Linked DNA regions of Homo sapiens. The protein of the gene in region 1 purifies or fractionates together with the protein of each later gene. This does not show direct contact. Each region holds a gene or a part of one and is shown in the gene's direction. Other genes may lie near its edges.

Region 1 (3,655 bases):
CGATGGCCTTGCAGCATCCTCCAGGGCTCTGAGAGGTACTCTAGGATGAGGCACTGGCCCTTTGCTGGGTGACTGTCTCTGACCAGGTAATAGGACTCTGAGAGAAGCCCAGGGGAGTTAGCAAGAGCCACACAGCCCAAAGCACTGCAATGCTCTATAGAACAGCAATCCTGAAATGTGGACTTTGTCACCACCCTTGGGTCACAGCCACTCCTCTGACAGCACTATGCTCACTTTCCATTTTCCATTCATTGACAAATGCCTGTTGAGTATGCTGCATGGGCCAGACTCCACAGGGAGCGGATGGGGGGGTCAGCCTGCTTGCTTTGCACCCTGTCTGTAACCCTGCCAGCAGCCCGTGGGCTCTGTGCAATGGAAGTGAGACTCTGGGAGGTTAAGTAACCAACCTCAGCACGTAGCCAGGAAGTGGCAGATCCTGGATCCCAGCTTTCTCCAACTCCACAGCTCTTTCCACCCCATCCTGCAGTCCTGTGCTGACCCAACGTTCTTTAGCCGGGTTGGGAGAAAGAACATCGGTAGCTGTCTTCCCGCCTTGGGCCTTGTCTCCTAGGATCTGGAAGTGTTCAGGGGGACATCCAATCAGTGGCAGCCTCCCTCCCAAAGGTGGTGGAAGTCCCCATTTGCTGGGGAAAACCCTGTTTCTTGGAAAGCACCGGCAGAGGCTGGCCGTGGGCTACTGTGCCAACCCAGGGAGTGCATGTGGCTCTGCCTGGGATCAGCAATAAGGCTCGTGGTCCTCACTGGGTGCCCCAGCCCCCTACCTTTGAAGCCACCATGCTCTCTTCAATTGCTACCTAGCTCTGTGCATGGAGAGGCTGTGCATGACCTGGACCCAAAATAGGTACAGGGAGGAGCAATTAAGAATCAGGAGGCTCTGAAGTTGGACTGGCCAAGGTGGAGTCGGGCTTCACCACTCACTGGTTACCTAATGTTAAGCACAACATTTAATCTCTCTAAGCCTCCATTTCTTCGCTATGAAGTGGGTCTGCCAATCACCTGCCAGTCACTGTAAGGAGTAGATGAGATGAGCCGTATTACCACTTAGCATGGGGCCTGGTGTGAGAAACTAGCTACTCTCACTGTTGGAGGGAGAGTCATGATCATTCTTGTTTTTGACCATGCCACTGAGCAGGTCCTGGCCTAAGAGAAAGCACTTTTCCTCCTGAGCTTCCTTTTTTTTTTTTTTTTCCTGGTGAAATGAGTGATCTTGACAACATCACCTATAAGGATCCCTGCAGTGTTTACAACTTGGTGACTCTGGCTGGATGACTTTTAGGTAGTCCAGATTCTAAGGTCACCCCTGGAATCTGGTTTTATCTGCAGACTTTTCTTTTATAAATTGGTTTCTTAACTCCAATATTCAATCTTACTCCCAGGAGCATCTAGGGAATGTGGGTGCGTTTAACATCCAGATGTTAGGCATGAATGGCATTATCGATGATCAGCTGATGCCTCTGGCTGAGAAGTCCACTCTCCTTGCTGTTGGCCCCTGTACAAAAAAAAAAAAAAAAAAAAATTCCTTCTCAGGGCTTTCTCAGCCAAACAGCCTTACCAGGAGGGAGGCAAAGAAAAGGCCAGTGGCTCCGAGAACCTACAGATCTGAAAAACTTCTAGCCTGTCATGGAATACTGGCTGTGTCCTCTAGAGACCTGAGCCTTGCTTGGATCCCTTTCCCAGGATCTCTAGATCTTGGGAGGAGACAAAAGTAATGATGGAGACCTGCCCCCATTTCCTCTACCTACCACAAAGTATTGCAAACTGGATGGCTCAAAACAATAGAAGTTTATTGTTTCACAGTTCTGCAGGCCAGAAGACAAAAATCAGGGAGTCTGTGATGGTTGCTTCCTTCTGAAGGCTGTGCAGGAGTCTGTTCTGTGCCCATCTCCCAGCTTCTGGTGTCTGCCGACAGTCTTTTGCATTCCTTAGCTTGTGGATGCATCAGCCCAATATCTGCCTCAATCATCGCATGGTCTCTTCCCTGTGTGTGAGTCTTCACATCTTCCCTCTATGCACATCTGTCTCTGTGTCCAAATTTCCCCCTTCTGTAAGGACACTAGTCATGTTGGATTAGAGTCCACCCTGATGGCCTCATTCTCACTTGATTTAACTGTGTTACCTCTCTAAAGGCATTTCTAATAGGGTAACATTCTGAAGTACTGAGAATCAGGACTTCAATATATACTTTTGGGGGGACACCATTCCACCTATAATAAGGTCCTTGGACTATTTTCATTACTTCCAAGGGTATAAGAATTAAACATTTCTTCCTACTGATTCTTAATAATTCTGTTTATTAAGTGCACGGACTCTAGAGATTACCTGGGTTTGAATCTTGGCTCTGCCACTTACTAGCTGTGTGATCTTGGGAAACTTATTAGGCCCCTATATGTTCAGTTTCCTCAACTGTAAAATAAGAATAATAATAATATTTACACCTCTTAGAATTCATATAAACATTAAATAAAAACACATTTACAATGCCTCATCTTATCACTCTTCTATATCCTACCACGTTTGGAAAAGGCTCCATCTAATAAAAACAGCAGAAGTATCTACAATACTTACCATGTGCCAGGCACTAGTCCAAATACTGTTGTGTACATCAACGCATGGCATCATCGCAGCAACTTTCTAAGGTGGGTGCTAGTGTCATCCCTGTTATACAGAAGCAAAAACTAAGCCCTAGAGTGATCAAGTCCTATAGGTACAGCCCTGCAGCCACTAAGGGGAGAAGTTAGGACCCAAATCCAGATTTGTCTGACTCCAGGGCCTTTTAGGAGCCACTGGGACTGGTTGACTTTCTAGGAATAATAAAAGGGTCTTGTAAGGATGAAAAGAATCACAGGCCACCACCTTCACTTGCCCAGAAAGTCACTCTGTTTTCAAAGGCCTGATTCTGGAGGCTTTTCCTATTATGGCGGACTGTGCTCAGAAAACACACTCGTTTCTTTACAACAGGCCCCGTACATGAAGGGCATGTGTCTCTCTTCCAAGCCCCAGGATGACTTTGGAAGGCCCCCACCCCAACCCAGGAGAGCCAGGAAGAAGCAAACCATGATGCCTTCCCCCCAGGGAACAATGGTCATTTGCCTGACATCTTGACTCTGTGGTTTTGTGTCTTCTAGGGAAGTCTGTTAGAACTGCTGTGCTGATCAACGGGACGCTCCGTCTTTGAAGAAAGAAGAGATGGTCTCTCCCCAGCCATGGGCCACCCTTGCCAGTGACTCCAAGTGGAACTACTTAGCTCGCGTGTGCCTGGAGGGTGCGGGAAGTCCAGCGACTCTCAGACGCACCTCCCAGAGGACCGGTGGGAATTGTTCATAGTGCCAAAGTCCTACTACTGCGTTTTCAATGGGTCCTTGTACATAGTTTGCTCCTCTGCCCTAGCCCTCACCTCTTGCTATACTGGAACCGATTTGTACAATGTGGGAATTTTGTTACCTTTTTAATCAAGGGCAACTTCCTTTTCCAGCACTACCATTGTAAGGTTTTTTTCAGGAGGGAGGGCTAACCACCTTGCTTTTCTCTTTTCTCTTTTTCTTTTTTTTATTTTTGTTTTATTAATTTGGGGAAAGGGGTGTTAGCATTAGTGCCATGATATCTACTGGATTTTAAGTAGGGAGACTTTATTTTT
Region 2 (3,655 bases), on another chromosome or scaffold:
GCACATGGTACATAATTAGTGGAGAGAAGTGCATTAGAAAGCTCCAATCCAGAAATCTGTAGGATGATGGGGAAGCTGGACAGCCCTTTGTTGTAGTCTAGTCTTTCATCAAGCGTCTATCAGGACCCACTTGTTGAGTTGTGAAAGAAATTGAGTGAGCCAATGCTGGGAATTTTTAAATAATAGAATAGAAAATATCTGCCAGGCATGATGATGGCTCACGACTGTAATCCCAGCACTTTGGGAAGCCGAAGTGGGAGAATCCTTTGAGCTCAGGAGTTTGAGACCAGCCTGGGTAGCATAGGGAGACCCCCTCTCTTAAAAGAAAAAAAAGAATAGAAAATACCAAAGTGCATCTTGTGTTGTATAAAGGTAAATGCTGTTTCATGAAACTTTCATTTCAGTTACATGCTTTATACATGTGTGCACTGAGTTGTGATAATGAAATGTGTTTCTTACTAAGGGTTGTGGTCAAAAAAGTTAAAAAGCTACTGTTCTAGGCTTTGCCTGGTAGTGATTATCAACTGTGATAATCCTATGGCTTTTCATATGCTTACACTAGTTGAGTTTCTGAAGAGGTTTTAGCTTTGGAGTTTGTGTAGGTCCACATAGAATGGGTTCCTAGTAAGTGGTTGGCTAAGTCTCAGCTTTTGCACCTTGGAATAGTGGGGCAAAGAGAATTGCACTGAGAAGAGAATGCACTAGGAAGAGAATTTTCATGCTAGCCAGAATAAACACTTATTATTTGTTTCTCTCTCTTTGAGGAAAAACCATTCAAAACTTTGTGTTAAGAGCAAGAGCTAGACAGACTAAATCTGGCTTAGTTTGTCATAATCTTGGGCAAAGAGGCACTTTGGGAAAGACTATCGAATTGTATTGCAGTCTTGCTAACTGAAGCTCACAGTAGTAGGAACATATGACTTTACTGAAGCCAGTTGCTTATAGCATTAACCATTAACAGTATCAATATCATGATACAGGCTAAATCACTCTGTCATTAATGTGAGAGAGAATTGCTGCTAGATTTGAAGCTGCTCTTCAAATCTTGATACTCTTCAAAGTATAAATTTAAATATTGCTAAATTGGTTCATTTGTATTACCAGAATAAACTAGTTAAGAAGAAAATCTGTACGTTACATATATTAGTCATTATGTGCTTCAAGTTATATTTAGTCTTGTAAAGATGTAAACTTCTGGATATTAGTCAAGGAAAAAATCTCATATAAGAAGGAAATTTGGAGTTGGGGAGGCGTTGAAACCTAAAAGACATTCCTTTCATGATCCTTATTTTTTAAAATCAATTTATTGAGAGATACTTTAGAAACAAAGTATAATAATTTTAAATGTGTATTTTGATGAGTTTTGACAAATTTGTACACCTGTGCAACTGCTACCACAATGAAGATATAAAACATTTTCATCACCCTACAATGTTCCTAAGGCTCCATGCCAGTCAACCTCCCTCTTTCCTGTCTCCCTGTATTCTCCACTCCCAAGGAACCACTGATCCATTTTCTGTCTCTAGATTACTGATGTCTTTTGGAGATTTTATATAAATGGAATCATATATATTCGTTTACATCATAACCTTAATTTTATTAGTTTATAGCCATAAATGTATTGTGTATTAGAGACAAGATAGAATTTAGGGAAGCCTGTTAGTGCCCCTAACAGACTCACAGTCTGGCTGAAAACCTGATTTTCTATTCTATACCCAGAATCTCTGAGGAGCAGACTTAGTCAACCAATTCCAAAGAGACTGGTGTAAAAATCAGAAAACCGGTTTGTCATGTTGCTGATTATATTTGCTCCCTGTTGGCCAATCTATATGTAAATCCAAATTATAGCTAGAAATTTACCTAGCGAGCATTCCATTAGATCAAGGGCAGTGCTTTGGAGAACCATATGGCCACAAGTCCTCTTGCTGTGATGACATAGCCTGTTATTTATGGCTCATAGATTCTTATGTTGTATCCATTTTGGTTATGAGTAATGGGGTTGATTAATTTTTATTTTGATTAAATTTTGTTATATTTTTCCTAACATTCCAACATTCATTTGGGAAATAAGAATTTCTCAAAATTCTTATTCTAGAAATAAGAATTTTCAAGTGTGCAGTGAAATCAAAGGAATTTGAAAATAAACACCTGTATACCTGCCAGTTAGGGTCTATTAACATCTTACTATAATTGCCTTACCAGATATTTCTCCACCCATTCATCCATTTTTTGATGCATTTCAAAGTAAATTTTAGATATCAATACACTTCTTTCTAAGTACTTGGACATATAGTTGCACATATTTTGGTTTCTTCTTTCACACTGTATTGAGACACCTTGCAAATGATTAATTCCACCAGCATGTGTGGATTTATGGAGAGTGGTACTGTACTTTGCCACGATAATGAGCAGCTCAGTTAGGTCACGTCATTTTATTATTCAGATGTTGGAATTTATGAGGGCCTAGTGAAAAATCAGAGAGAAAGACCTATCTACATTTTTGTTTATATATCTGTCCTCCCTCCCATATTTCCAAGATGAATTGCCGATTGCTAACTTATATCATTTTAATTTTTTAATGAAGTCTTTATTAAAGGTTCTCAGATATCATTCAGTTTATCTAATTGTATCCTTATTTTTAAAAGTGGATCTTCAACTCTTAAAGTCTATGAGAAGGGTAAATTTTGCCTACCATATGTAGTGGACCTGAGTAACATGTTTGGTGGGAAGCAATTACGTGTTACAACTTAAAGAAGCTTTATTCTCTAAAGTATATGTGCAAACCTGAAAATCAGTGTTAGGTATGCCTTGTATCAAAGTGATGTAGCTTAACGAGTATCTCTTAGGTGCAAGTATTGCTCTGACAGTATTGAAAGGTAAGGTTGCCAGTATACTGAAAGCATTTTAGAAACGTGAAAATAGCATTATGTTGTTATGATTGTGCCATGTAATCCCAGTTAAAAATGATACTGAATATAAGCATTTCCTATTCTCCTATCCTGTTTTCTTGCAAATAAAGTACAGTGATAAATTATCCAGGTTAATTGTCTGGTAAGGCCTTTATTGACAATCTCACTTTAGTTTCTTTCCCCACCTTTCTAACAGGAGTGTACCTCACAGCCTTCTAGGATCTCCAGAGTGGACAGGAATCTCACTTGGAGGGACCATGGAGCAGTATACAGCAAACAGCAATAGTTCGACAGAGCAGATTGTTGTCCAGGCAGGACAGATTCAGCAGCAGGTATGGAAGCAAAACTGCTTTAAACATTACAGCAATGAAACTGATAACAGCACCACTCAATTGGTTGGTCTATTGCCCTGGGGAATTATTTGAAAGATACCAGATCTTGTGAGATATTGGGTCTGATGGCTTGTGCTGAAATGCCATGTCTAGCCCATGACCACTTAGAATCTACTCTTCATGGGTGCCTGGTTATAGTAAATTGCCTCTTTTATCTCATTTTAAGTAAAAACATCTAGTCTGGTTTTCAGATGGAAATTTGGACTTTAAAATTTTTCTGGATTCTATTTGGTCTTTTTCTCTTCTTGTTTGAGCTAACTTGTGATTTAGTAAGTCTTTGGCCACAACAGACAAACCAACATAGCTTCCAATAAATCTTCTGTTTTTTGATTTGGTCTGCCACATTTTTTATTC

Evidence for each region. Proteins that work in one complex are often made in the same cells at the same time.
Region 2: the proteins of ZHX2 (region 1) and NFYA purify together in Homo sapiens (co-immunoprecipitation; one study listed by IntAct). This does not show direct contact.

Annotation. Positions count from the first base shown.
Region 1 is NC_000008.11:122,970,096-122,973,750, forward strand, and holds part of ZHX2 (zinc fingers and homeoboxes protein 2), read left to right. Parts: intron 1-3,146; coding exon of another isoform or gene 3,147-3,173; 3' UTR 3,174-3,655. UniProt on the Homo sapiens protein: Acts as a transcriptional repressor. Represses the promoter activity of the CDC25C gene stimulated by NFYA.
Region 2 is NC_000006.12:41,075,924-41,079,578, forward strand, and holds part of NFYA (nuclear transcription factor Y subunit alpha), read left to right. Parts: intron 1-3,105; 5' UTR 3,106-3,166; coding exon 3,167-3,241; intron 3,242-3,655. UniProt on the Homo sapiens protein: Component of the sequence-specific heterotrimeric transcription factor (NF-Y) which specifically recognizes a 5'-CCAAT-3' box motif found in the promoters of its target genes.